Homo sapiens: one gene and its partners. The protein of the gene in region 2 interacts with the protein of the main gene of each other region in a pairwise test. Each region holds a gene or a part of one and is shown on either strand. Other genes may lie near its edges. The genes, in order: CPNE7, DUSP21, MAP2K5 and POU4F3.

Region 1 (5,031 bases), on a different chromosome or scaffold from region 2:
ATGGGTGGACGGATGGGTGGGCAGGGCGATGGGTGGACGGATGGGTGGGTGGATGGACCGATGTGGGGATGGGTGGGCCTGGATTCAGGGTTAGGACAATTTGTTTTTCTCAGGCAAGATCATTCAGGGGAAATCTCAAACTCAGGGCGAGGAGGTCCCAGCAGGTGGGAGATGCCCCGGCTCCACGAACATCACATGGAGGCTTCACCCTCCAGCCCAGCTCCCTGCGGTGCAGGCCATGTGGGAGGCTCCTGGCACCCCTGCATCACGTCCACAGTCCTCACTCACTGGGTTTCAGGCCTGGGAGTCCCAGGAAGCCGAGTGGAGCTCCTTCGCGGGTGGAGGCAGCCATGGTGCGGATCCCCGCTCTCTGCCCCTGGCAGCCTGTGCATCCCGCATCCCATTCAGTCCAGGGAGGATCCTGGTGTGCTGGGCCTGGGAGAGCCCCTGCCTCAGATGTGGGCACTTTGGAAGCCAGGCCCAGCCCTCTGGGGGGTTGGGGAAGGGACTGAAGGCACAAGAGAACTACAAGGATAGGGTGACACTTTATTACTCCTGAAGCCCCACCGGCAGAACCCACAGGCCAGGCAGACCCCGCAGACCCCGCAGACCCCATGGACCCAGGTGCAGAGGCCCGACGGCAAAAAGCACAGGGTAGGTGGGTGTGGGGGCACCAGCAGGGACAGGAGGCTGACTGTGGGGACAGGATGTCTGGGTCCCCAGGCTTTGACTGTGGGGACAGGTGTCTGGGTCCCCCAGGCTTTCTCGGGCGTGGGGGGACTGCCTTGCTGGCCCTCCCCCACAAAGGTTAGACGCAAAGCAGAGCCCCCAGTCCCTGCCCCTTCTCATCGGGGCAGGGTCTCCCGTGGATGAACTCCCAGCTCCCTCCAAGTCCCTCATGATCTCCCTCCCTCCACCCACCTGGCTCAGGCAGGGCCAGGCATGGGGGCCTGTATTTTGTCACCCTTCGGCCTTGGGGGCCCCAGAGCCGGGCCCAAGCCAGCAGGATCCCAGGAGGACTGGGAGTGGGGCCTGGTGGGGACTGGAGGCTTCTGGGAGGTCGGAGGGAGCTTAAGGGACCCCAAGCATGTTGCAGACAGAGGCTGTACGGACCCATTCCTCACTGCCCCCACCCTACGCCCTCCACATCTTCACGGTGTGCAGCCTGGGCTGGCCTCTCCGGCAGGGACACCCAGGCTTCTCGGGGGCAGGCCTCTGTGGCTGTAGTACTCCACCACCTGCTTCGGGACCTCGGCCAGCACGCACTTGGCCAGCGCCGCAGGGGATGCCTGGAGGATGGGACAACGCAGTTACCTCTGGGACCTTCGAGATGGAGATCATCCGTCCCTGCAACTGGATTATGGCCCAGGCCTCATCCTCCAGAGCCGAGTGGTGACTACCCACCCCCACCAGAGGCTCACCTGGGTGCCGGGCAAGACTTGCTGAGGATGTCGGCCACATGAGGCTGCACGTGGGTCTTTCCAGCCCCCCAAGCACGGAGATGAAAAGTGCTGACACGGGAGGCGAGGCCACCTCCATGGTCCAGGCCCCACCCACACTTCCCCGGCAAAGCCTGAGCGTGTCTGTGTGATGTGACTCACTGCAGAGCTTCATGTGTCTGTAATATGCATGTTTCACTGCGTAGAATGTCACGTGTCCGTGTCTTCATGCATGTCTGTGGTGTCTTGCTGTGTAGAACTTCACATCTATGTGGCATGCACGTCTTGCTGTAGGGCCTCATGTGTGACATGTGTGTCTTGCCTGGTAGAACCTCACGTGTGTGCTGTGCGTCTCACCGGGTAGAACCTCACGTGTGTGCTGTGTGTGTCTCGGCGGGTAGAACCTCACGTGTGTGCTGTGCGTGTCTCGCCGGGTCGCAGAGGTTGGCAGCAACGGGGGAAGCCGCGTGGTGGATCCCAGGAGCCCCTTGTGCTGTTCTCTGCTTTTGTGTAGATTCGACAAGTTTCAAAACGGTGGAGGGTGTTTCAGGTGCTCAAAGTCCTGGCTTCAGATACTGCTCTTGACTGGGGGGAACAGCCCAGGATCCCCCAGACACAAGAAGGGACCTGCCACATCCACTGGCGTGAGCCTGGCCTGGGAAGGTCTTGGGCAGTGACATGAACAGGGACCCCCAAGCCGGCCTTGACGGAGCCCCTCCAGGACACTCACGTTCTTGAGCTCCCGGAAGGGCACGAACTGTACGATGTCCCGGAGCGCGGGCTCACCCCGTGGGGAGCGCAGGACGCCGTCGTCGCCGTCCAGGACCTGCATGTCGGTGAAGTCGGCGTTGCCCACGCCCACGATGATGATGGACATGGGCAGGCGTGAGGCACGCACAATGGCCTCCCGTGTGTCGGCCATGTCGGTCACCACGCCGTCCGTCAGGATCAGCAGGATGTAGTATTGCTGGGGGCACAGGAAAGGCATCAGCAACACCACACCTGCCATGGCCCACATGCGCCCTGCAACCCACGGGCCCCCAGACAGCCCAGAGTGCCTCCGTGCGTCAGAGCTTCCTAGAACCGCCTTCAGAGTGTGATGCCTACATCACAAACATCACGAACAACAGTGGGTCAGGAGCCCCCTCCGTGGCGGGCACTCTGGGCCTCCTGTGCCCAGCTCAGGAAATCTCCACGAGTCTCACGGAGGGCTGTGGAGGGGGTGCTACGAAGTCTACATTTTACTGATGAGCTCACAGTGCCTGGATGGGAGGTCTGAGGCCAGAGGAGAAATCTGCGATCCCAGGAGCCAGACCTGCAGCCCACACACCCTGCTCCAGTCTCTCCAGGGTGCCCGCTGTGCTGCCACAAGACTGAGTGTTGGCCGGACGCGGTGGTTCACGCCTGTAATCTCAGCACTTTGGGAGGCCGAGGCGGGCGGATCACCTGAGGTCAGGAGTTCGAGACCAGCCTGGCCAAAATGGTGAAACCCCATCTCTACTAAAAATACAAAAACTAGCTGGGCGTGGTGGTGGGCGCCTGTAATCCCAGCTATTCGGGAGGCTGAGGCATGAGAATCGCTTGAACTTGGGAGGCAGAGGGTGCAGTGAGCTGAGATCGCGCCATTGCACTTCAGCCTGGCGATAGAGTGAGACTGTCTCCAAAAAAAAAAAAAAAAAAAAAAAAAAAAAGGCAGAATGGAACTTCAAATAAAATCAACTTCCATTGTTTAAAAAAAACCCCACTCAATAATCTTGCCCAAACTGTGGACAACGGGAAACATAAAGAGAAGCAGGGCTCGCCTGAGCAGCAGAGCGGGAGCCCACAGCAGCCTCCCCTGGGCTGGCCTTGACTGAGCCCGTCCCACTGAGGGCAGATGTGTCCTGGAAACGAACAGGGGCCCCAGGACCCCACTCAGAGTCGCCTTCTCCAAGAGGCTCTCTTTTTGTGCCCTCCCCATCTCCCCCTCTCTGAGCCCCACACCTGTGGGAAGAATTACCTGTTTGCAAGGCAGTCTCTGGTCCAGGCCTACAAGCACCCACGGCTGTGCCCAGCCTGGCTCTCGGCCTCCAGATAAACAGCCCAGCCTCAGAAAGCCCCCCACCCCCTCCCAACCCCAGATGAGGCCCCCACCCCCCTCTGCCAACTGTGCGAGCACCAGGCACCAAAACCCACCGTGGGGCCCCACTAGGGCGGGAGCTTCGTGTCCAGGAGAGGGACCGAGGGCTCAGCTGATCATGTCTGAGTCCTCGTTTCAACCCAATTCTAACCACAGAAAACCATGTCACGGGTAAGACAACAGGAAACACAAACACCAGACGGATGTGCAATGCCAGGAGTGGTGGTTAGGTGTGATCAGGTGTCGTGGCTGCTTAAAAAGAGGCTTATCTTTATTAGACGCTGATACTGACATTTACAGATGAAACCGTCTGAGACCCGCTTCCCAGCCACACAGGAACATAACAGCTGAACGCAATCCTCGACTCCGGACTGGCTCCTGGGCCAGGAACAATACTGCTTTGAAAGTTATGATTGTGCCAATGAATGAAATTGGAATATAGTCTATGTATTAGATAAAAGGATTGTATCTAAATTCAATTTCCTGAAATCTGTATTTGTGCTATGGTTATACAAGAGAATATCTTTGATCTTAGGAAATATACACTGAAATAGTAAGAGGTAGGCCGGGCGCGGTGGCTCACGCCTGTAATCCCAGCACTTTGGGAGGCCGAGGTGGGCGGATCACGAGGTCAGGAGATCGAGACCATCCTGGCTAACACAGTGAAACCCCGTCTCTACTAAAAATACAAAAAATTAGCCGGGCGTGGTGGCGGGCGCCTGTAGTCCCAGCTATTTGGGAGGCTGAGGCAGGAGAATGGCGTGAACCCGGGAGGCGGAGCTTGCAGTGAACCAAGATCGCGCCACTGCACTCCAGCCTGGGTGAAGAGCGAGACTCCATCTCAAAAAAAAAAAAATATTAAGAGGTAAAACCGTGATGTTGCAACGTGCTCTCGGACGGTTCACAAATGTGTGTGTGCAGTGCCAAGTTTTTTAAAAAGCATCAAAGTCTTTATCACGATACTATCTGTATAAATTAAAAATAGATGCAAACAGATATAGGGTTCCCATTTGGCTTGAAGATGTAAGTAGACGGGTGATGTTTGATCATCATGAATGTACCTCGTGCCTCTGAACTGGATACAATAAAATGGTTACAGGCCAGGTGCGGCGGCTCACACCTGTAATCCCATCCCAGCACTTTGGGAGGCTGAGGCAGGCAGATCACTTGAGGTCAGGAGTTTGAGACCAGCCTGGCCAAGACAGTGAAACCCCATCTCTACAAAAATATAAAAATTAGCCGGGTATGGTGGCGGGCGCCTGTACTCCCAGCTACTCAGGAGGCTGAGTCAGGAGAATGGCGTGAACCCGGGAGGCGGAGCTTGCAGTGAGCCGAGATCACGTCACTGCACTCCAGCCTGGGTGACAAGAGTAAAACTCCATCTCAAAAAAAAAAAAAAAAAAAGAAAAGAAAAAAATGGTTACAATGGTAAATTTTAAACTGTGCATATTTTATCACAATAAAAAAAATTTG
Region 2 (6,333 bases):
CAAAGGCCGGTGGGAGATCACCAAAGACACCTTGAGAACTTGCCATCAAGTACAGCAGTCAAAAAAATACAATATTTTTAAACTTTATGGAGTGGAATGGTCTTTTAAAAAACTAGTTTTTTTTTTTTTAACTAATGTATAAATCCGATCTAGAAAACCAGAGATGGGCCACTGTGATTGAAGGTGGGCAAGGGTAGCCTGAGACTCCTCCAGAGCTCCTGGAGCACAGCTTGAATGAAAGCCACTTATCCACTAGGTTGGCACTTACTGGGAGAAGTGCAAGGGATGCCAAGATGTCTAAGGCTTTGACTTTGGGTTGGAAAGAACCGGGTGAGATTCTAGGGGATTCACTCCTGGGTTAGTCAGCCTCTGGCAGGGCTCAGGATTCCAGGTCTGCCACATGTATTGGGTGCTGCTGGCAGGTCTATGTGAGCTGAGCATTACTTGCCCCACCCTGGTTCCAGCCAGGCCCCAATAGCTTGACCTCACAATATAAAAAATATTTTCACTATCTTATGTTTCATGAATTTAATTCTATTAAGGTAAGGCTTACTACGTTCAAAACTCCAACCCCCTCCCTTTTTTCTTGCCCTTTAACAAGGCACCATCCGGTTTTCTTTACTAACAAAATGTCAGTGTTCAAGTTCAGTCTTGGTGCAAGATCGATGGCAGATGTCAGGGGCTGGCCGGGATGGCTTACATTGATATCATCATACGTAGGTCCTTCTCATAGATGTCAGGGATGTTACCTACCGGCGAGTTGATCATGCGCACGGTGTTGTTATTAAACAGCTTGAATTCGTAATTGATGAGCTGTTCCCAAAAGCCGTTGTTGGGCCGGATGATGGGGCGGCGCGACTTGGTCCATGTATGGGCGTCCAGCAGCGACATGGAGTGGTATTTCATGAGGTACGCAAGGCACAGTGAGGCGGAACGGCTCACTCCAGCCATGCAGTGCAGCAGCGTACGGCCCTGCCTCATATCGATGGTGTGGATAAGATCAGCAATGGGGTCAAAAAAGTCGTAGAGACGCGAGTCACGAGCATCGGTAACAGGCACCTTTATGTACTGAATGCCCTCGAAGAATACGTTGACCACTTCCACCGAGGCATTGACAATGGCGGTGATGCGATTGCTGGACAGAAGGAGTTTGTCGTTGGCGGCCACACCATTGCTGAGAAACAAGCTTCTGGTTATTTGGGAGAAGCTGTAGATGGAGGGCTGCTGGACACCCTGAGATGATGAAAAGGAGGACGCGGATGCTGTCATCAAGGCGGCTGGTCCGAGGTCTCTCTACGCTGGTTCGGGACACAACACTTACCAAGCTAGTTCAGGATAGCAGCCGCGCCGCCAAGTCTCAGGCTAGGTGTTGGAGAAAGAGGACCAGCTATCGGCCACCACCCTCTTTCTGTCTCCTCTCACCACTCCCATCTGGGCGTCACAATCCCGGACAGATAGCCCTGCGGCTCCGGTTTCCATGGCAATGGCCGCTTGCCGCAAGGAGGACAGGGCCTCTAAGCAGGGTCTTCAGAGACACCCCAGTCTCTTTTCTTTTTATCTTTCTTCATAGTCATTTATTTTCCAAGGCCTAATTCTTATCTTTCTTGACTTTTAAAAATGTTCTGTTACAAGATATCTATTTTATGTTTCAATTATTGGACCACGTTAAACAAGATCTATGAATACTTCTATTTCATCAGTGTTGCAGAACAGGGCTTACACTTTCCCTGCAAAATAGCAATATCACATTCTAAGTTGGGGAACAGCATTTGGCTCATGTGATATGCTAATCTCTATAAAACTGGAGCGAGATATGGGATTTGGCTGGGCTTGGTGGACTGGCCTGATACTTCTTTGTTGATTGTAACCATAAAATTATTTTCCTGCTTACAAACACATCAGGGCTGGTTGTAAGAGAGCATTGCTAACTGATATATAGCCCTTTATCTTGAAGTTGGCCTGTGGTGGACAGTTGTGACTAATTTAGCTGTGTCATAGTCCATTTGTACATACAGCTCAAATGACTTACCGCATGAGTCTATTTTATTACCTGAAACAACAGTTCAAATTATTTTGTTTACTTTCTTCAAAAAAAAATGCCTACATGCTTTGTGAACTACAAATCACTTTGACCACTACCGATGCTGTCTTCCCAGTAATATTAAACATTCTGAAACAAGTTAATGCTACATGGTAATTGGGCCAAAAATTGAGACAGTTTTGCTCTGTCACCCAGGCTGGAGAGTCCCAGGCCTCTGCTTCCTGGGTTCAAGTGATTCTTGTGCCTTAGCCTACCGAGTAGCTGGGATTACAGGAACGCACCACCACACCTGGCGAATTCTTGTATTTTTAGTAGAGACAGGATTTCACCATGTTGGCCAGGCTGGTCTCAAACTCCTGACCTCAGGTGATCCACCGGCCTCGGCCTCCCAAAGTGCTGGGATTACATGCACGAGCCACAGCACTCAGCCCAAAAATTAATTTCTAAAATGTAACCTGACATTTGCATTTCCTTCCAGCTAAGATTTTTATAGAATTTGGCTGAAAATTGAAAAGAACTATAGCCTAAAACTAACAAATTGTTTCACAGAGTAGCCAATTGACTCACATACTTTGCTCTCATTCCATCATCATTTTGGTATGTGTTCAAAGGTGTGCTGTGATTACGAACAAAGATGAAATAGATACCAGGCTGCTTATGATGGTCAAGGAAATGATAACCTCAAAACACAACACACGTTTCTTTTCTCAGTTGTCATAATCAAATTATTTTGCATTACTTAAATTGTCAGTCCCCACAAAGCTATCTGGAAGAAAATAGAACACGAATACTAAATAAATATGAAAACTGTTTGTTGGGGGCAGCTCAGCTGGGCTAACGGAGAAGCTTTGTAATCTATGTAGTAATGTGGAGGCCCTAAACTAGTATTGGAGTCTACTTATTTCATAAGTATACACTTCTTAAACTTTAAAACTAAGTACAATTAACAAAATAATTTCAGACACTATTTTCTTTTCTTTTTTTTATTTTTATTTTTTTTGAGACGGAGTTTTGCTCTTGTTGCCCAGGCTGGAGTGCAGTGGCGCGATCTTGGTTCACCACAACCTCCGCCTCCCAGGTTCAAGCCATTCTCCTGCCTCAGTCTCATGAGTAGCTGGGATTACAGGCTCGCGCCACCATGCCCAGCTAATTTTTTGTATTTTTAGTAGAGACGAGGTTTCACCATGTTGGCCAGGCTGGTCTCAAACTCTCGACCTCAGGTGACCCACCCACCTCGGCCTCCCAAAGTGCAGGGATAACAGGCATGAGCCACCGCGCCCGGCCTCAGACACTATTTTCAAAGACAAGCATGACCCGTGTTAAATAGATTCATTTATTTATTCTTCATATTCTGTGACACCTGTTAGTCTGAGGGATGTTGGATGTTTTAAAATTCCGCTATGGAGCTTTTCCTGGATAGATAACGTTTTCTCCCCTTGAGTTTGGAAGCAGGTCACTTTCAGATCCCACTTGTCTCTACTTTTCCTTTTTTTTTTTTTTTTTTTTAACACACTGATGGAGGCAATTTTCCTTGTTATTTAGTGAAGAAAATGTGCAATGGACTTGCCCAATAACACACTCTCTTTCCACCGCTGGGAAAACACCCTGGATGTTAAGAACTAGTTAATGTTCAAATTTCTCAATTCAGTAGTCAAAGCCCTTTCTAATCTAAGCCTGCCTTTCAAATCTCATTCATTCATTTATTCATCAGATTTTTATTAAGAATCTATAGTGTGTTAGGCATTTTCACCTATATAAACCCTCAGTTCTGACCAAACAAAGCAAACGCTTTTGGTAAATACAAAATGTACATTCCTGTTTCCTTACCTTTGCTCATGCCATTCCTCTCTCTTGAGAAGCCTGACTCCTCTCTGCTTCCTGAATTCTATCCGAGCTTCAAGACTCAGCTTGATTAATTTAAAAACGGGATCAACTGAGCATCCAATCTGTGTCAGGTATGGTCCTAGCAGTGTAGATCCATCACAATACAGGGCCTGATTTCCAAGAGCTTATACTTTGGTCAGAGAGATAGATAACCTTGGAAGAGTCCAGAAGAGAGGGTATGATTCATTGTTTTAGGTGAGTGTTTGGGGGCCAGGGGCAGTAGGTGTATGTCATGGAAGGCTTAATAGAAAACGTGACTGGGAAAAGTCTTTTTGTTTTTATTACTTATTATTTATAGTGTCCAAGTTTGTGTTTTGAAAAATATCAAACCTACATAAAAGCTGCAAGAACAGAACAATGAGCATCTGTTTACCCTTCACCTATAGTTCTATTGTTAACACTTCACCACATTTGCTTTATCTATTTTGATATACAGACACACATATTTATTTATTTGCTTGTTTCTTTTTGCTGAAACATTGAGAGTTTCTTGTAGATATAGCAACAATTTAGCCCTTCAGCACATATCTCCAAAGAACAAGTACATGCTCTTCCATAACCACAGTACAATGACCATACTCAGGAAATTTAACATTGGCCCCATATTATCATCTAACACGTAATCCATATTCAAATTTCACCAAGTCTTTTAATAATATTATTTATAGCTGTTTTTTTCTTTTGATCCAAGATTGAATCAAGGATCACACATTGCATTTAGCCGTCATGCTTCTTTAGCATCTTTAAATTTGGAGCTGTTGCTGAGTCTTTTATTTTGTTTCGGTCTTGCTGGACATTGGCATTTTTAAGAGTTCAGGCTAGTTTTGGCCGGGTGCGGTGGCTCACGCCTGTAATCCCAGCACTTTGGGAGGCCGAAGTGGGCAGAACACAAGGTCAGGAGATTGAGACCATCCTGGCTAACACGGTGAAACCCCGTCTCTACTAAAAATACAAAAAAATTAGCCGGGCGTGGTGGCGGGCGCTTATAGTCCCAGCTACTCGGGAGGCTGAGGCAGGAGAATGGTGTGAACCCAGGAGGCGGAGCTTGCAGTGAGCCGAGATTGCACCACTGCACTCCAGCCTGTGCGACTGAGCAAGGCTCCGTCTCCAAAAAAAAAAAAAAAAAAAAAAAAAAGAGTTCAGGCCAGTTTTGCAGAACATCTTTCAAGATGTATTTGTTTGACTGTTCCCTCGGGATTAGATTCAGGTGAAATTTTTTTTGCAAGAAGACCACCAGAGTGTGTGATTCTCAGTACATCGTACCAGGGGCATATGTTATTTGTCTGTTCCATTAATGGTGATGAGAATTTTTTTCTTTTCTCTTTCAATAGCTTTAGGAGTACTAGCGGTTTGGGGTTACATGGATGAATTGTATAATGGCAAAGTCTGAAATTTTAGTGCACCCATCACCTGAGTAGTGTACATTCTTCCCAATATGTAGTTTTTAAATCTCTCCCCACTCTCATCCTCGCCCATTATGAGTCTCCAATGTCCATTATACTAGTCTACATGCCTTTGTGTACCCATAGCTTAGCTCCGACTTATGAGAACATGCGACCAGGCATGGTGGCTCACGCCTGTAATCCCAGCATTTTGGGAGGCCAAGGCAGGTGGATCACCTGAGGTCAGGAGTTCGAGACCAGCTTGGCCAACATGGCGAAACCCCGTCTCTACTAAAAATACAAAACTTAGCTGGGCATGGTGGCGCACGCTTGTACTCCCAGCTACTTGGGAGACTGAGGTGGAGGATTGCTTGAACATGGGAGGATCGCTTGAACCCAGGAGGCGGAGGTTGCAGTGAGCCAAGATCGTGCCACTGCACTCCACCCTGGGCAAGAGAGTGAGACTCTGTCTCAGAAAAAAAAAAAAAAAAAAGTGAGAACATGTGATATTTGGTTTTCCATTCCTGAGTTACTTCACTTAGAATAATGTTCTCCAGTTCCATCCAAGTTGCTGCAAAAGACATTATTTTGTTCTTTTTTATAGCTGAGTAGTATTCCATGGTGTATATATATCACATTTTCTTTATCCACTTATCAGTTGATGAGCACTTAGTTTTGTTGCGTATCTTTGCATTTGTGAATTGTGCGGTAATAAATATATGCGTGTAGGTGTCTTTTTGATATAATGACTTCTTTTCCTTTGGGTAGATACCTAGTAGTGGGATTACTGGATCAAATGGTAGATCTACTTTTAGTTCTTTAAGGAATCTCCATACTGCTTTCTGTAAAGATTGTACTAATTTACATTCCCCTAGCAGTGTTACCTTTTTACCACATCCACGCCAACATCTATTGCTTTTTCAATTTTATTTATTTTATTTTATTCATTTATTTATTTTTGAGACGGAGTTTCGCTCTTGCCGCCCAGGCTGGAGTGCAGTGGTGCATCTCAGCTCACTGCAACCT
Region 3 (7,628 bases), on a different chromosome or scaffold from region 2:
CTTGCAAGTTAAACAACCTGGCTCCAGAGTTTGTGGTCTTAAACACTGGGCTATTCTTGAAATAATCACATAACCAAATAATATAATCACATAATAATCAACCTTCCATTGTTTTAAATGAGTAAGAGAAAACCCATCTTTCTCATCACAGTCACAATCTCACATAATCTTTCCAAGTCTTTGAGGAAGGTACAAGTTTCCCTGTTTTACAAATAAGGAAACTAAGGCTCAGAGAGGTAGACTGACTTGCCTAGTCAGTGGGACAGCTTGCAATTAAACCCAAATTCCTTGACTCTAAACCTAGTGTTCTGTCCACAGAACCATAATTGCATGCATCCTCTTTTAAGCTCCCTTCTTAAACAAGTATTTTGGGGTCCTATGAAGAAACAAAAACAAACATATCTATCTCCTCCAGAAGTTTACCATCTAGTGGAGGAGACAAAGAATCATGATCAAACATGTGCTTTGCTGGGGGACCCACACAAAGCTGTGACGACACAGAGGTGGGGCACATAACCAAGAATGACACAGAGAAAAAGCACAACTTGGCTTGGAAGGACAGGTGGGAATTGACCGGTGAAGAGCAGAGTGCAGACAGCCTGGACACCTGGGAGAAATGAAAATCAACCTATGTAAGTGAGGCACAGAAGTTTATGGGGCCGTGAAGAGAGATGACACAGGTGCCAGGCAGACAGGGGCCAATCCAGATGTGCCCAGAGGACCACATGAAGGAGCCTGGGCCTTATCATGAGGGGAAATCTGTATGTGCATGACTGTGTGGAGAACTCCGGATACAAAGAGAAGGATGGCATTTGATGCACAATATGGAAAGCTCCTGGTCAAGGCACCCAAAAATCTGCATGGCCTGGGCAGTCAGTAACATCTAGAACTCAAAATGAAGTTATAGAAATCAAATTTTGATTAAGTTACCCAAGACAATGAAAAATCACATCACAAATCTTCCTCTTCCCAAGATCCTGCCACCTTGCCCACTCTTAACTTGCAGGTAGTGATGTGCTTTTCGGAATGTCCGCTTCTGTCTTCCATGCCTCAGTTATTCTGCATGTAGAATGGGCACAAGGCACCCTGTCTATCTCAAATGAATACCAGAAAGATTAGAAGCGGCTGCAACATGTAGGGAAAGAAACCTACTAAGTCAATGAAACAAAATTTTAGTTCTGGTACTGACTCTCCCACTCAGGAGCTCACAGCTTTGGAAAAGCCATTTCACCTCACTGCTCCTCAGTAACTATCTGCAAAAAAGAAACATCAGCTGAACAGGCCACCTACAGTGTTACACTCTGCTCTAAAATTCCATCATTTTATTTGAAATATATTCTGAAAAATCTGAATGTAAAATATCACCAATTCTAAGATGCACATTTTCCCTTACTTTTACCGTCTCTGAAACTGGACTCATTTTAATAACGGATGATGTGTCATACTGTCATGGTTAGCATTTTTTTCTAAGTAAAATGTCTTACATTCAATGATGCTTTAAGTTTGCTCAGGCTGGGCACAGTAACTCACACCTGTAATCTCAGCACTTTGGGAAGGCCGAGGCAAGCAAATCGCAGGAGTTCAAGACCAGCCTGGGCAACATGGCAATACCTCGTCTCTACAAGATACAAAAATTATCCAGGTGTGATGGCATGTGCCAGCTACTTGGGAGGCTGAGGTAGGAGAATCGCTTGAGCCCAGGAGGCAGAGGCTGCAGTGAGCCGAGATCGTGCCACAGCACTGCAGCCTGAGCGACAGAGTGAGGCCCTGTCTCAAAATAAATTAATGAAACAGTGTGCTCAAACATGGTAAGTTAAAGTTGTCCTTTTTCCCTTTCTCAGCTGGTCACCAAGTTCAGAGAACTCAGTAGAAAAACAAGGCTGGAATCTGTCCAAGGACATTCCCCGAAACACTTGGGGGGAAAAAACCTCTCTTCTAGATTCAGCAGTTTGCATTTGCGTGGTTGTGTCTATATGTGTGTCCCAGCCCGGGCCATGAGCTCTCTGAGGGCAGGGGTTCAGTCAGATTGATCTATCTCCCCAGGGTCCTAGACATTTGCCAGGTTTTAGTGGTTGCAATTTATCAATGCTGTGCCTGAAGCAATAAAACTGCCTCCACAGGAAGCCAGCAGTAGCCATTGCCACTGGCTCAGGTCACCAGTGGTCAAGGTGCTGACTACTCAAGTCCCTGAGTCCCCCTTGCTGGCATCCGGACACTGAGATTACCACTCACCAGCACATCCCTGAAGAGTAACTGCGGCCCGGAGTGCACTGTCCAGTCCACCGCGCCACTATTTGGGATCTTGATGCGAATTACCAGCACCTGGTTCTCCATGGCAGGAAAGGGGCCAAGGGCTAGCCACAGCATTACAGGTTAAAGAGGCTCACATCCTGGGGTATGGGAAACCCACTGGCCGCTGGTTAGGAGGGGGCTCCAAGAGGTGACAAGGGGAGTGACGGGCAGAGGACAGAGGGTGAAAACAAGGGAATGGAGGATGAGGGGGAGGGAAGAGGGGAGGGGTGATCAGGAACGCACCCGCAGGCACCGAGCCTGCCCAGGCTGTCGGGGGTCTGAGGTGTCTCCCGGGGAGGGTGCACCGGGAAGCGGGCAAAGGCCCGCAGGAACTAGCGGAGGTCGGAAGGTTCTGGAGTTGAGCGAACGCTATGGTGAAGGTCTCTGCCGCCGTGTGGGTATGAGGAGGCAGCAGGGCAAGGACTCGGTTTGGGGGAGATACAGCGGCAGGTGTCCACCGCTCGTCAGTGGACTAGGAGAGGGTCCTCGACTGGAGGGGACTCAGTCCGGGGCTATTAAGAAAGAGCCCCAGGGCCGCCACACCACGGAGAGTCCCCGCGGGAGGTTCAAGGGGCGAGTCTTCTGCCCCACCCGGAGACACAGGGCGCGGCGCGCGCAGGCTGAGCTCCGGCCACCCGAGGCCGCGCGGACTGGCGGCGGCTGCGGCGGCGGCGACGGCGGTAGCGGCGAGAGGAGGAGGAGGAAGGCGGCGGCGACACTGTTACTCCGGAACCAAAACGCGCGGCGCCGGAACCCCGGGAGCCGACGAGCGGGACCCGCCTCCCGCGGCGCCATGTTGGAAAAGGGCAGCAGCTCCCGGGAGGATGCGCCCCCGGCGTGGGAAGCCGAGGAACCGGCGCGCGGCGCGCGGCGCGTGGCGCGTGGCGAGTCGGGGAGAGACTGGTCTTGCTCGCTCAGGAGACCCTCATCGCCCACAGAGCGCCCGCGGCGACCCGGTCACGGCCCTTCCATTTCCTGACCCTGCTTAATGACAGCGAGGTGAAAACATCTACCAAACGAAGGGTAAAAGGCTGGAGTCCGCCAAAAGCCAATTTAAGGCTTAACATTGCAGACCGTTTGTCTTTACAAAAGCTTCAAAGACGGGGCTGCAGCTCCCGGTTATCCCCACTTTGTCAAGCCATGAATCTGAATGTTCGTGGGGTTGTGTGCATCGAATCAGCAAGAGCAAGGCAAGAATTCAAGAAATAGTTCTTTTTTATCCCCCCTTCCAAGTCACAGGTTCAGAGGATCATCATCTTTCTCCCACATTAGCAAAACATATTTGCATTTTTCAGTGAAGTTCTTTACCGCACGAGTGCCCTAAAATAGCAAACAGTTCCCTGTTCAAAAGCAATAGTAAAGAAATTCGCCGAAGAGTTTAATTGCCTGGGGACAGCTGCAGTAGTCGCATCATCGTCTCTTATTAAACTGTTGCAGAAATATTCGGTCTAGTCCATGTATTTTCAACTAAATAGCACTGCTTACGCAGTTGGTGATATGGTGATATCACGGAAGTAGCAATAAACCTTGGTTATCTTTTTTTTTTTTTTTTTTGAGACGGAGTCTCGCTCCGTCGCCCAGGCTGGAGTGCAACGGCGCGACCTCTACTCACCACAACCTCAGCCTCCCGGATTCAAGCGATTCTCCTGCCTCAGCACTACCACCCCCACCAGCCCCCAACCCCTGCCGAGTAACTGGGACTACAGGCGTGCGCCATCCGTGCCCGCTCATTTTTGTATTTTCAGTAGAGACTGGGTTTCACTATGTTGGCCAGGCTGGTCTCAAACTCCTGACCTCGTGATCCGCCCACCTCAGCCTCCCAAAGTGCTGGGGGGATTACAGGTGTGAGCCACCGCGCCCGGCCAACCTTGGTTATCTTCAAATGCCTTGTTACCTCAGATTTTAAAGTGCATAAGGTTGTAGAACGATGGTGCCTCTACAGAAGTTTCTTTACAAATTGTAATGTGTAGGTTCGTCCTTTATTTCTTTCTTATGAAGGTGCACGAATTGGCTTTACTTTCTGGGGTTGAATTTTGTATAAACTCGGTTGAGGAGGCTTGTCAGTTTCCCTTCTAACAGTAAGGTGCTTGATTAATGTGAGAGAAAAAAATTAATGTTGGTCATTTTCAGTTACAATACCAAAATTTTTTCTGCATACTTTACTCTGAGTTACTTTTATATTTAATTTGAAAGGCCATTGTAGGAGATAAATTATCACATTTTAAGTTACTGTAAATCAATAGCTTAGGTAGAAATTCATTTAGTCAGATCCTTCAGATATTCTAGGAATTTCCCCTTTTCACCTGCACTTCACTTCTGTGAAAAATAAACCGTTCATCAAAAGTCCTCATGTACTTTTATTAAAAGTTCATTTCCTATTATTTTAGAAAATAGACCACGAAACTAGAGATTTTCTATGAACCTGTGATTTGTTAAAATGTCTCTTTTATTCGAAGTACCGTGGGGAAAACCAACTCAATTTGCCAAATTTGCATACATATTCTGAAGCTTTTCTTACACTAATGGCAAACTCATATTTCTGTTCCAATATTTGCAGAGCCAATATAATTACACGTCAGCTCTTCATAGCCTTTATGTAGTAAGAAATCTTAACTTTGATGATTTGAGCAAGGATTTTTCCAGAAAGTTATAACTCTCATTGCGAGAAGCATCATAATCACTGATAATACATTCCACTTGATATCATAAATGACAAAATATAACTTTCTGATCTTTACCAAATTGAATACTGTCTAAATTTAAGGAATATTTAGTATTTAACATCGAAGTTGCATGTGATCTTAAGAAGTTTGCATTTAGTACTTTTTTTCATTTTATTTTATTTTATTTATTTATTTTGAGACGGAGTCTTACTCTGTCACCCAGACTGTAGTGCACTGGCGCAGTCTCGGCTCATTGCAACCTCCACCTCCCAGGTTCAAGCGATTCTCCTGCCTCAGCCTCCCAAGTAACTAGGACTATAGGTATGTGCCACCACGCCCAGCTAATTGTTGTACTTTTAGTAGAGACGAGGTTTCACCATGTTGGCCAGGCTGGTCTGGAACTCCTGACCTCAAGTGATCCACCCGTCTCGGCCTCCCAAAGTGCTAGGAATACAGGCGTGAGACAGCGCGCCAGGCCTTTTTTCTTGTTAAATGATACAAGTCAGAATAGTCACTCAGGTACTGGCTGAGATAGTTTACTAGCCATTAAGCAAACTTACTGTAAAAAAAAAACTGTGCTTACTTGTAGTGTTCCTACTTGAGGGATTTACTTTTCACTAAGTGTAATAGAAAATCCCTCCCCTCATGAAGTTATATTCTGATGGGGAACACAGACAAATGAGTAAAATATATGTTAGATAGTAGTAAATGCTAACAGAAAAATGAAATCAGAAGGGAAAATGGTAAAACAGTAAGTGCACCAGTGTGATAACACTAAGGAATATGAAAACTGGCCTATATTGGCTTCAGTTAACTGGCAAATTTAACTGAAAATAGACACATTACTGAAAAGTTAGATGTCTAGTGATTTTTTTCCTTGTGATAAAATACACATAAAATTTACCATTGTACTCATTTTGAAGTGTGCAGATCAGTAGTGTTACATACATTCATTCATCCTGTTGTACAGCCAATCTCCAGATTTTCATCTTGCAAAACTGAAACTCTATATTCATTAAACAACTGCCCACTTCCCCTTCCCTCCAGCCCCTGGCAACCACCAATCAACTTTCTATTTCTATGAATTTGACTACTCTAGATACCTCATATAAATAGAATCATCCAGTATCTGCCTTTTTGTGACTGGCTTATTTCACTTGGTATAATGCCTTCAGGGTCCATCATGTTGTAACATGTGTCAGCATTTCCTTACTTTTTTTTTTTTTTTTAAGATGTACTCTTGCTGTGTCATCAACACTGGAGTGTAGTGGCATGATCTAGGCTCCACCTCCTGGGTTCAAGCAATTCTCCCACTTCAGCCTCCCAAGTAGCTGGGATTACAGGTGCCCACCACCACACAAGGCTAATTTTTGTATTTTTAGTAGAGACAGGGTTTCACCATGTTGGCCAGATTGGTCTCGAACTCCTGACCTCAGGTGATCCACCCACCTTGGCCTCCCAAAGTGCTGGGGTTACAGGCATGAGCCACCACCCCTGGCCATTTCCTTCCTTTTCAAAGCTGAACAAAATTCTGTTGTGTGTATATAACACATTGTGTGTATCCATTCATCTATCAATGAACATTTAAGTTGTTTCCACCTTTTGGCTATTGTGAATAATGCTGATATGAACATGGGGGTACAAATATCTGTTCCTGTCTCTCCTTTCGACTTTTTGGGATGTATACTCAAAAGTGGAATTGCTGGATCATATTTTCTATGTTTAATTTTTTGAGGAATCACCATACTGTTTTCCAGAGTGGCTGTACCATTTTACATTCTCACCAAAAGTGCATAAGAGTTCCAATTTCTCCATGTTTTCACCACCACTGGTTATTTTCTATATTTGTTTATAGTAGCTATCCTGTTGGGTATAATGTGATATCTTACTGTAGTTTTAATTTGTATTTCTCTAATGATTAGTGATGTTGAACATCTTTACCTATTCTTGTTGCTCATTTGTATATCTTCTTTGGAGAAATACCTATTGAAGTTTTTTGCCCATTTTGTGTATTTATTTATTTATTTTTGAGACAGAGTCTTGCTCTATCTCCCAAACTGGAGTACAGAGGCACAATCTCAGCTCACTGCAACGTCCGCCTCCCAGGTTCAAGGGATTCTCCTCCCTCAGCCTCTCGAGTAGCTGGGACTACAGACGTGCACTACCACACCCAGCTAATTTTTGTATTTTTAGTAAAGATGGGGTTTCACCATGTTGGCCAAGCTGGTCTCGAACTCCTGACCTCAGGCGATCTGCCCACCTCGGCCTCCCAAAGTGCTGGGATTACAGGCATAAGCCACCGCACCTGGCTTTTTTTTTTTTTTTTTTTGCCCATTTTAATAGGGTTATTTTGTTGTTGTGATTTATTTTTTTAAGGAGAAAAATTACATTTTGCTGTTATAAATTCAGAGAGGTTTTCTTTCATCTCTTATTACCCTGATCCCAGTATCGAATCCTTAATCCAGAATCTGAGCCTTTCTCACCACCTTCACTGCTACTACCCCAGTCCAAACTATTCTTTCATCTTCTGTTTTCGCCCTTGCCCCTACTACCAACAGTATTATCTACCCAGTTGCCACAGTTAGATCAAGTCACTTGTTTGACTAAAACTCTCCAAACAGCTTCTTATCTTGTGCAGGAAAAAGGCCAAAATCCTTTTCTTGGCCTACAAAA
Region 4 (7,333 bases), on a different chromosome or scaffold from region 2:
GTGGGGAGAAGGGATGGCTGGGGGCTGGGCAGCAGAAACTGACAGCCCAACCCTTTGGGGTTCTCCTTTTTAAATCCTTTTCAAAGCTAGTACCCCTTAGCCTCTGAGAAAAAATAAAACCACTTTGATTCGGGTTGAAAAATAAAGCATTTATTTTAGAAGTTAATTCAAGGGGTAAAGGGAAAAGAAAACTTAATATTTTATTTGTATCTATTCAGAGAATGAAACCAAAGGTCACACAGCAACACACAAACTACATGAAACAACGAAAAAATAAAATAAAATTTGGGCTAGAGGGGCAGGGTGAGAAGGGTTCAGGCCCATGGTCCCACTCCTCTTCCCTCACAAAACTATAAGTGAACTTCCACCGAAAGACACCCACATAAAGGGAATGGAAAGAAGCAGAATTAAATAAATAATAGTAATGAACGATGTTAACAACAACAGTAATAACAAAAGTGCAAGGAGGTTAGACGTGTTGAAAGGACTTGCATATAATGCAGAGAAGTTACAGTCGTTTTCCAGCAGCCGACTGCACGCTGAGCTGGCAATCTGGCAAGAGCAGCGAGCTGGGGTCAGAGAGTCCTCAACGGTTATGAATACTACAAACTCCCGCTCTCCAGCAAGCAGTAATTACCCCTCAAACACCAGTAGGTAGTGAAAGATGGCCAGAGCTGGTGCTGGCAGCTGATTACAAACAGCCAAGCGATCCCAGAATTTTCAGTCGCCAGACTGGGCCCACCTGTTTTGGAGCCCTACTTACCACGAAAAAATGGCAACTTGGAGCCCGCAACTCCCTGCATACTTTCCCTGAACCTAATCTTCATGCTACCTTATGAGAATTTACGCCAAACCAAAGGATAAGGTGAATAGAATTTAGGCAAGGAAGGGAGTATAAGGCTATCCTTTGGAAACATACATGTATTTTATATACTCTAATAAATCTCCAGTGCATGTTTGTGTCCCCCTTAGATATCCTAGACTTTGTGTTATTATTGATCACTTCCTTTTTATCCCTTCACCCTTTGCCTAATCGCGCTTAGCAAAGTGGCATTTTCACCCTAGCTTCGGGCGGTTGGGCCAATTGACTGTCCTCTGCTTTGGGGCTCCTGCTCTGAAGTCGTGCGGCCCCTGCGCGAGGGCAAATTTCAGCACCACGGACAGCACAAGTACACTCAGGCCCGCCCTTCTGCAATATTTTCCCAGCGCCAAAATTTTTTTGGTGGGAATAGAAAGGAAAGAGAGAGAAGGCCGGAGGCAACCAGGCGGGACAAAGGGGGAAAGTCTGTGGCTTCGGAGGAGAGAGCCTAACCTGCCTAGGAAACGCCTTGGAGTTCCCGATAACCATCCCCCGAACCCGGGAGGGATGAGCACTAGGCTCTCCCGGCTCCCGACGCTGCGCCCTGCCGCAATCAGTGGACAGCCGAATACTTCATTCGTTTCTGTTTCTGTCTCTGGTTGCAGAACCAGACTCTCACCACGTTCTTTTTAAGGTCCAGTTTCTCAGCGATGGCCGCGATCTTCTCAGATGAAGGACGTGGCTGGATAGCGAAATAGGCCTCGAGTGAACGCTTCTCCGGCGCCGCGATGGACGTGCGTTTGCGCTTCCGTTCGCTGCCGTTGAAGAGCTCTGGCTTGCTGTTCTTCTCTCGGTAGGCGGCCTCGGCCTCCTCCAACCAGGCCTGGAGCACCGGCTTGAGAGCGATCATGTTGTTGTGCGAGAGAGTGAGAGACTCGAACCTGCAGATGGTGCTTTGGCTCAGCGAGCCCACGCCGGGGATCTTGAGATTAGCCAGAGCCGCGCCCACGTCCGCCTGGGTCACCCCCAGCTTGATGCGCCGCTGCTTGAAGCGCTCGGCGAAGGCTTCCAGCTCGCGCGGGTCTGACTCCACGTCGCTGAGGCATGCAGGCATGGCGCTATGAGGGGCCACGGTGTGCGGGTGACTCATGCCCATGGCCTGGTGCAGGTGGCCCATGGCGCCCAGGTGGTGTGGATGGATCTGTGCGGGCATCACCGAGTGTTCCGGAGCGCCCAGGCCGCTCACACTCAGCGTGGGCGAGATGTGCTCCAGCAGGTCGCCTTCGAGGCCCTGGTGCACGGCGTGGTGAGGGTGTGAGGTGAGCGCAGCTGGGTGGGAGATGGGCACGGTGGACGAAGTGGACGTGCAGGGCACGCTGCTCATGGTATGGTAGGTGGCGTCGGGCTTGAACGGATGGTTCTTGCCGTGGGAGACGATATCCACCGCCGCCAGAGCTTCGGCGCGTGCCAGCAGGCTCTCATCAAAGCTTCCAAATATATTACCCTGCAGCTGCAAGCGAGAAGGCGCACAGCACGGTCAGTAGGGAATACTGTCAACACAGGATTAAAACACATTTTCAAGCAACCGAGATGCCTCTCCTCAAAGCCCAGGTCATAAAAATTAATACGGAGGCAGCGGCTCTGCTGGAACAGACGTGTGGATCAGAGACATGAATGAGAGAGAGAGCGCGCCGGGAGAGAACGCGGGGGAGACAAGGAGAGGGGTTCAGACAGCGGCGATTGTTCTGGGCGACATGAAAAAAACATGAAGCTAGTGCCTGTCAAAAAATGTGCCTTAGAGCGGTAATTATGCTCCACTACGTACCTGCGGGGCTGGGAGACAGACTCGGCGCATGGCCTCGGAGCCAGAGTGCAGACTGGAGAATTTGGGTTCTTGCAGCACCGGGTGCATGCCGAAAGGCTGCTTGGAGTTCATGGCCATCATCTTCGCGCTCCTGGCAGGGTGGCAGCGGGTGACATGGAATCAGGCTTGTCTAGCTTGCTTGCCGCTCTCCAAGTGAGCGCTGCTCAGCGCCCGCGCTCCCCTCGCCCTCTCGCTCGCTGCCTCCCCTCTCCCCCACCTGCTTCTTCACTCATCTTACAAGCAGCCTGCCAGGAAGGGCCCGGGCGCGCGCAGGCGTGCTCACGCGCCGGGGACTCGCAGGGGCGGCCCGGGAGGTGAGGAGAGACAGCAGCTAGCGGCGCGCCTTTCTGCGCCCGCGGCGGCCGCCCCCTCCACAGCCTTTATACCCGGGCCTGGCCTGGCCTCTCCCAGTCCGCCCCGCCCCGCTGGCTCCAACCCGCCAGACCTTTCCGATTCTTTCTTCTTCGTGGACTTCCCTTCCCCCATGCCACCCCAAAAGTCCCAACCTCTCCGTCCTGTCCCAGCTCGAACTGCCTGGATAAAAGGGTAGCCCTGGGCTGAGCTGGGGCAGGAAGTTGACCCTACTCCAACTTCCCCTCTCCACCACACACACACACACACACACACACACACACACACACACACACTCCGTCGGCCCGGCTGCCGCCAAACTGCCCATTTCCAGGGCGCTCCTGGCCTCACGCCCAAGCTGTCCACCAGAGTCCGGTCCCGCGGCGCAGCGAGGAGGCGCCTCCAAGCGCCCAGACGGGCCCTGGAGAGGGTGAGGGGCTGCCAGAACGAGGCCCAGGTGACCCCTGCCCCACCTCCCTCAACCGCGCTCCGGGGTAGAGGTAGGGGCAGTAACTGCCTTCTCAGTCCGGGGTGGCTTCCTCCCCACGCTTGCCTTTCTTTCTTTCATTTGAGGGATGTAACTTGGCCCACTCTTCCTCCAACCCTCCCGTCTAAGGAAGCTTGTGGAGTATTTTTTTTAGAATAGCGACTGTTCAGGATGGCCCTCCAGGCCTGGGAGTCCTTCAGTGCATTTCTGCTGGGCAGCCAGAGCTTGCAAGCCCATTCCTCGTGACAACAGCTACCGTTTAAGAGTTCCTAATATGTGCTAGACAATTTAGAGTTTGCCCATGGGATTCTCATACCCACCGTATGGAGTAGGTGATGTTATCCCGTTTTACAGATGAGGAAAACAAGGATCAGAGGGGCTAATGATTAGCCCATTCACTCACTCACCCAGTTATCCATCCATCTTACAAATATTTACTGACGGCCTGCTGCTTCCCAGGCGCCTTAGCCTCTTGGTCTTCCTTCTCAAAGTTTCGGAACTTGAGGGCTCTCGAGGTTAGCACTGCCCGCCTCCACCTCCCCTAGCCTCTTTTTCTCTCTACTTCCCTCTTCTTTCCTCTCCCTTGCCCCGCTCTAGTAAACATCGTGAATAATGGATGGGGAATCCTGGACCTCGACTACGCTGCACTCCGGTTCGGAGAGAAACCCCGCGCGTGCAGCTGTACCCCCTCGTCAGGGCCACTGCCTCCGCTGAGAGAGCGATCTTCGGGGCTTAGAGACCTCACCCTGCCTGTTATTGTGCAGGGTATGTGCGTGCCGGGTTTCCCAGAATCTGAACGAGGTGGGGTGGTGTGGTTTAGGGGAACATCCCTTAGTCCAAGAGGACGCCCTGACAGATCCGGGCTCCCTCTTCCCCTCGGCGCCCTCCAGTTGCTTTTCTCCCCATCCGAGCCAGCCCCCTCCGCTGGTTCCCGCCCTGCGATGGTGGGAAAAAGACTCAGCCCAGGTGCCTAGAGCCAAGCGCAACCCTTTCGCTAAAGCCCTCTGAGCCTCGGTTTCGGCGGCTCTTAAATGGAATTGCACTACTGTCTGCCTCCTTGGATTCTGGTGAAGACGTTCAGAGTTAGGGTAAGAAGAAAAGCATTGAGCCACGAAATTGGTGCTCAGTAAACTCCCTCACAACCTGGTGCCATAGCGCTCAGGCCCTGGCCTCAGATTCAAAATGCGCCTCTGCCTCTTGCTGGCTGAGACCACGAGATATTCTCAACTTCTCTGTACTGCGGTGTCCCCATCTGTAAAATGGGGGTGATCATTTATTTCCCATTGATTGTTGTGAGGAATGCACTGGGATAAGCACATGGCACAGTGCCTGGCGCATTGATATCATTGAATACATGTTCCTCTCTTCTTCCTCAACTTAAAGAGAAAGCATGTGAGAGTGGGGGTGGGCCAAGTCATCCTCCTGGAACCCGGTTTGTCTGCACGTGCATACTGTGGATCCTTGCTCTCCATTCACCCAACATCTGCATTGTGCCAGACCCCATGCCAAAGGCTGGGACACAGATGTGAATCAGAATCCATCCTGGCACTCAAGGAGTCACCAGTCTAATATTCACTTCAGAAAGTTAACTCTAAACTTGCCAAGCAGTAGAAGGGAGGTAGATTCATGAACAAGACACAGAGCATAAGGGTGGCAGGATTCTAGAAGTGCAGAATACACATCAGAACTATGGGCTGCAGGAGGGCTGGATTTGGGGCTGCATTCTGACACGGAGTATGGGTGACCCTGACTGGACCTCAGTTTACCTACAAGGAGTGGGCTGTATAAGATGATTGCTAAGCTTTAACAAGACTTCCAGCTTTAACAAGACTATCATTCTGGTTAATTTGAATGAAACATACTTTGAGCATGTCAGGAATTTATCTCCAGAGACACTCAACTCCCCAGAGCTGAATGCAGTATTTTATCACTCACTAGGATTTAAGACCAGTCTTTGTTTTCTTCCCAATGCTGGAAGCCCAAAGGGAAAAGGGGAATGAAACACAGGGATACACTGGTCTGTATTTTGCCTGGTCCCATGATGCCCTGAGACCCATAATCATTCCATAATACCCTAGTTGTCTGTGAAGCTGAACCCCTAGAAACTGGGAGAGAAAGGATTCATATCCATTCTCTTTTTCTGCTCTGTCCTCTCAGGGGTCTGGGAGATACTGGCCAGCATAGAGGTCAGGCATGAGTCAGAAACAGAGCAAAACTAACTGGTCCTCACATGCCTCCAATGTTGACCTTCACCTTACCAGCCCCTACTCCAGCATCCCCAGGCATTAGGATCACACATCAAGAAACACACCTGTGTCTGGTCCCATGTGTTTTAGGGTTTTTCCCATCTTCCCCTCTAAGAAGGTCTACTGGCAGTTCTAGGCAGCCAGCGGTAAGACAACACCCATCCTTAAGGACCAGTCTTTTTGAGAAGGCCTTGGAGATAACAGACTGGAGACTGGAGAAGAAAAGAGGGAAAAGACCATAGAAAAAGCAATTGGAAGGACAGCCTTAGACGGCAATTTGTAACAGCCTCTATGCTTTCCAGAATTTGTAAACTTAAATTCTATAAGGTGCAAAACTAGTAAAATAAAATTGAGCAACTTTATCTGGGTGGATAAAAGGAAAGATTGAAACTGTGGTAAACTAGAGAGCACTTACCCACCCCCCCCCCCACCACCATGGCATTAAATTACAATCACACACACACACACACACACACACACACACACACACACTCATACCATTTATGGGCCAAACAAAATATGTGAAGGTCCATGTAAGGACTATGTGGGCATTTATGCAAGTGGCATTGAAGGAAGAATTTTCCCCATTCGATAAGCATTTCCAAATACCTACTAACAGCAGAGTCTTGTGGAAGGCCTTGAAGATACAGAAGACACTGCTTCAGGAGCTCAGAGTCTAGTAGGGACATAGATTTGCCACATGTAAGGTGAAGTCAGGGCACAAAGCACCATATCCTCCAGAAGGACTAGCCTTGTAGAGATGCAAAGGGGGTAGGGGCCTGGGGGCAGATGCATTTTCCTGTGTGCCAGCGGTTCTCAATTTTAGTATGTGTAGGAATCATCTGCAACCTCTTAAAATACAGCACCACAGGCCCACACCCAGAGATGCTGACCTCAAAAACTAACGTGCTTTTTAATAGACATCCATGATTTTGGATGCAGAGGATCTGGGACTCTGAACTTGAAAAACTTAGTCTATACCCTTGTCACTTGGATTATTATTATTATTATTATTATTATTATTATTATTTTAAAATCCTGCCCTAATTATGTAAGCTTCATGGAGACTCAAAGAGAGTTTTCCTTCTTTGAGCTTCCAATGTCTTTTGCATCTTCCCTTATTATCTCTTAGTAAGAACGTGGTGTTTTATGATCTCTGCTCCTTGAAGAACTGTCTGTGTTTCCAGTGCCCATGTCTACAGGCCAGGCAACATTAAGAGCTTGATGTAATTCATGTTGAATTAATGAACTCTGGCCAGGGGGGTGTCCATGATGATGGTGACAAGAAGGGCCATTTATGGAGTGGTTCCTATGTACAAGGCTCTGAGCTAGATGCTTTGGAAGTGTTGTACACTGAGTCTCCAAATCAAGCCTGTGAGGTTGATATCATTATCCCCATTTTACAGATGAAAAAAAGGAGGCATAGAAAGACTAAGTAAGTTGCCCAAGGCCACACAGTTAGGCAGTAGTAGCATGGGGAAGGGAGCCTTGGTTTATCTGATTCTGGAGCTCAGGTTAGTCCTAACTAACATCCTGGGCTGGCACTAGTTATCCCATCTCCCAAGCCCAGGGTCCGAGGGAGTAGG

What was found.
Region 1: the proteins of DUSP21 (region 2) and CPNE7 interact in binary tests that used the Homo sapiens proteins (3 or more experiments, as listed by UniProt).
Region 3: the proteins of DUSP21 (region 2) and MAP2K5 interact in binary tests that used the Homo sapiens proteins (3 or more experiments, as listed by UniProt).
Region 4: the proteins of DUSP21 (region 2) and POU4F3 interact in binary tests that used the Homo sapiens proteins (3 or more experiments, as listed by UniProt).

Annotation. Positions count from the first base shown.
Region 1 is NC_000016.10:89,592,742-89,597,772, reverse strand, and holds the end of CPNE7 (copine-7), read right to left. Parts: exon of another isoform or gene 3,809-5,031; intron 2,407-3,808; coding exon 2,170-2,406; intron 1,943-2,169; coding exon of another isoform or gene 1,849-1,942; intron 1,290-1,848; coding exon 1,152-1,289; coding exon of another isoform or gene 1,135-1,151; 3' UTR 527-1,134; downstream 1-526. UniProt on the Homo sapiens protein: Calcium-dependent phospholipid-binding protein that may play a role in calcium-mediated intracellular processes.
Region 2 is NC_000023.11:44,839,069-44,845,401, reverse strand, and holds DUSP21 (dual specificity protein phosphatase 21), read right to left. Parts: upstream 1,382-6,333; 5' UTR 1,270-1,381; coding exon 697-1,269; 3' UTR 514-696; downstream 1-513. UniProt on the Homo sapiens protein: Protein phosphatase component of the sperm flagellar doublet microtubules. May act as a regulator of sperm motility by mediating dephosphorylation of sperm doublet microtubule proteins.
Region 3 is NC_000015.10:67,538,075-67,545,702, reverse strand, and holds the start of MAP2K5 (dual specificity mitogen-activated protein kinase kinase 5), read right to left. Parts: upstream 3,001-7,628; 5' UTR 2,368-3,000; coding exon 2,233-2,367; intron 1-2,232. UniProt on the Homo sapiens protein: Acts as a scaffold for the formation of a ternary MAP3K2/MAP3K3-MAP3K5-MAPK7 signaling complex.
Region 4 is NC_000005.10:146,334,524-146,341,856, reverse strand, and holds POU4F3 (POU domain, class 4, transcription factor 3), read right to left. Parts: upstream 3,019-7,333; 5' UTR 2,755-3,018; coding exon of another isoform or gene 2,745-2,754; coding exon 2,625-2,744; intron 2,310-2,624; coding exon 1,413-2,309; 3' UTR 129-1,412; downstream 1-128. Other genes in the region: RBM27-POU4F3, read right to left, coding at 2,299-2,309, 2,625-2,754. UniProt on the Homo sapiens protein: Acts as a transcriptional activator. Acts by binding to sequences related to the consensus octamer motif 5'-ATGCAAAT-3' in the regulatory regions of its target genes.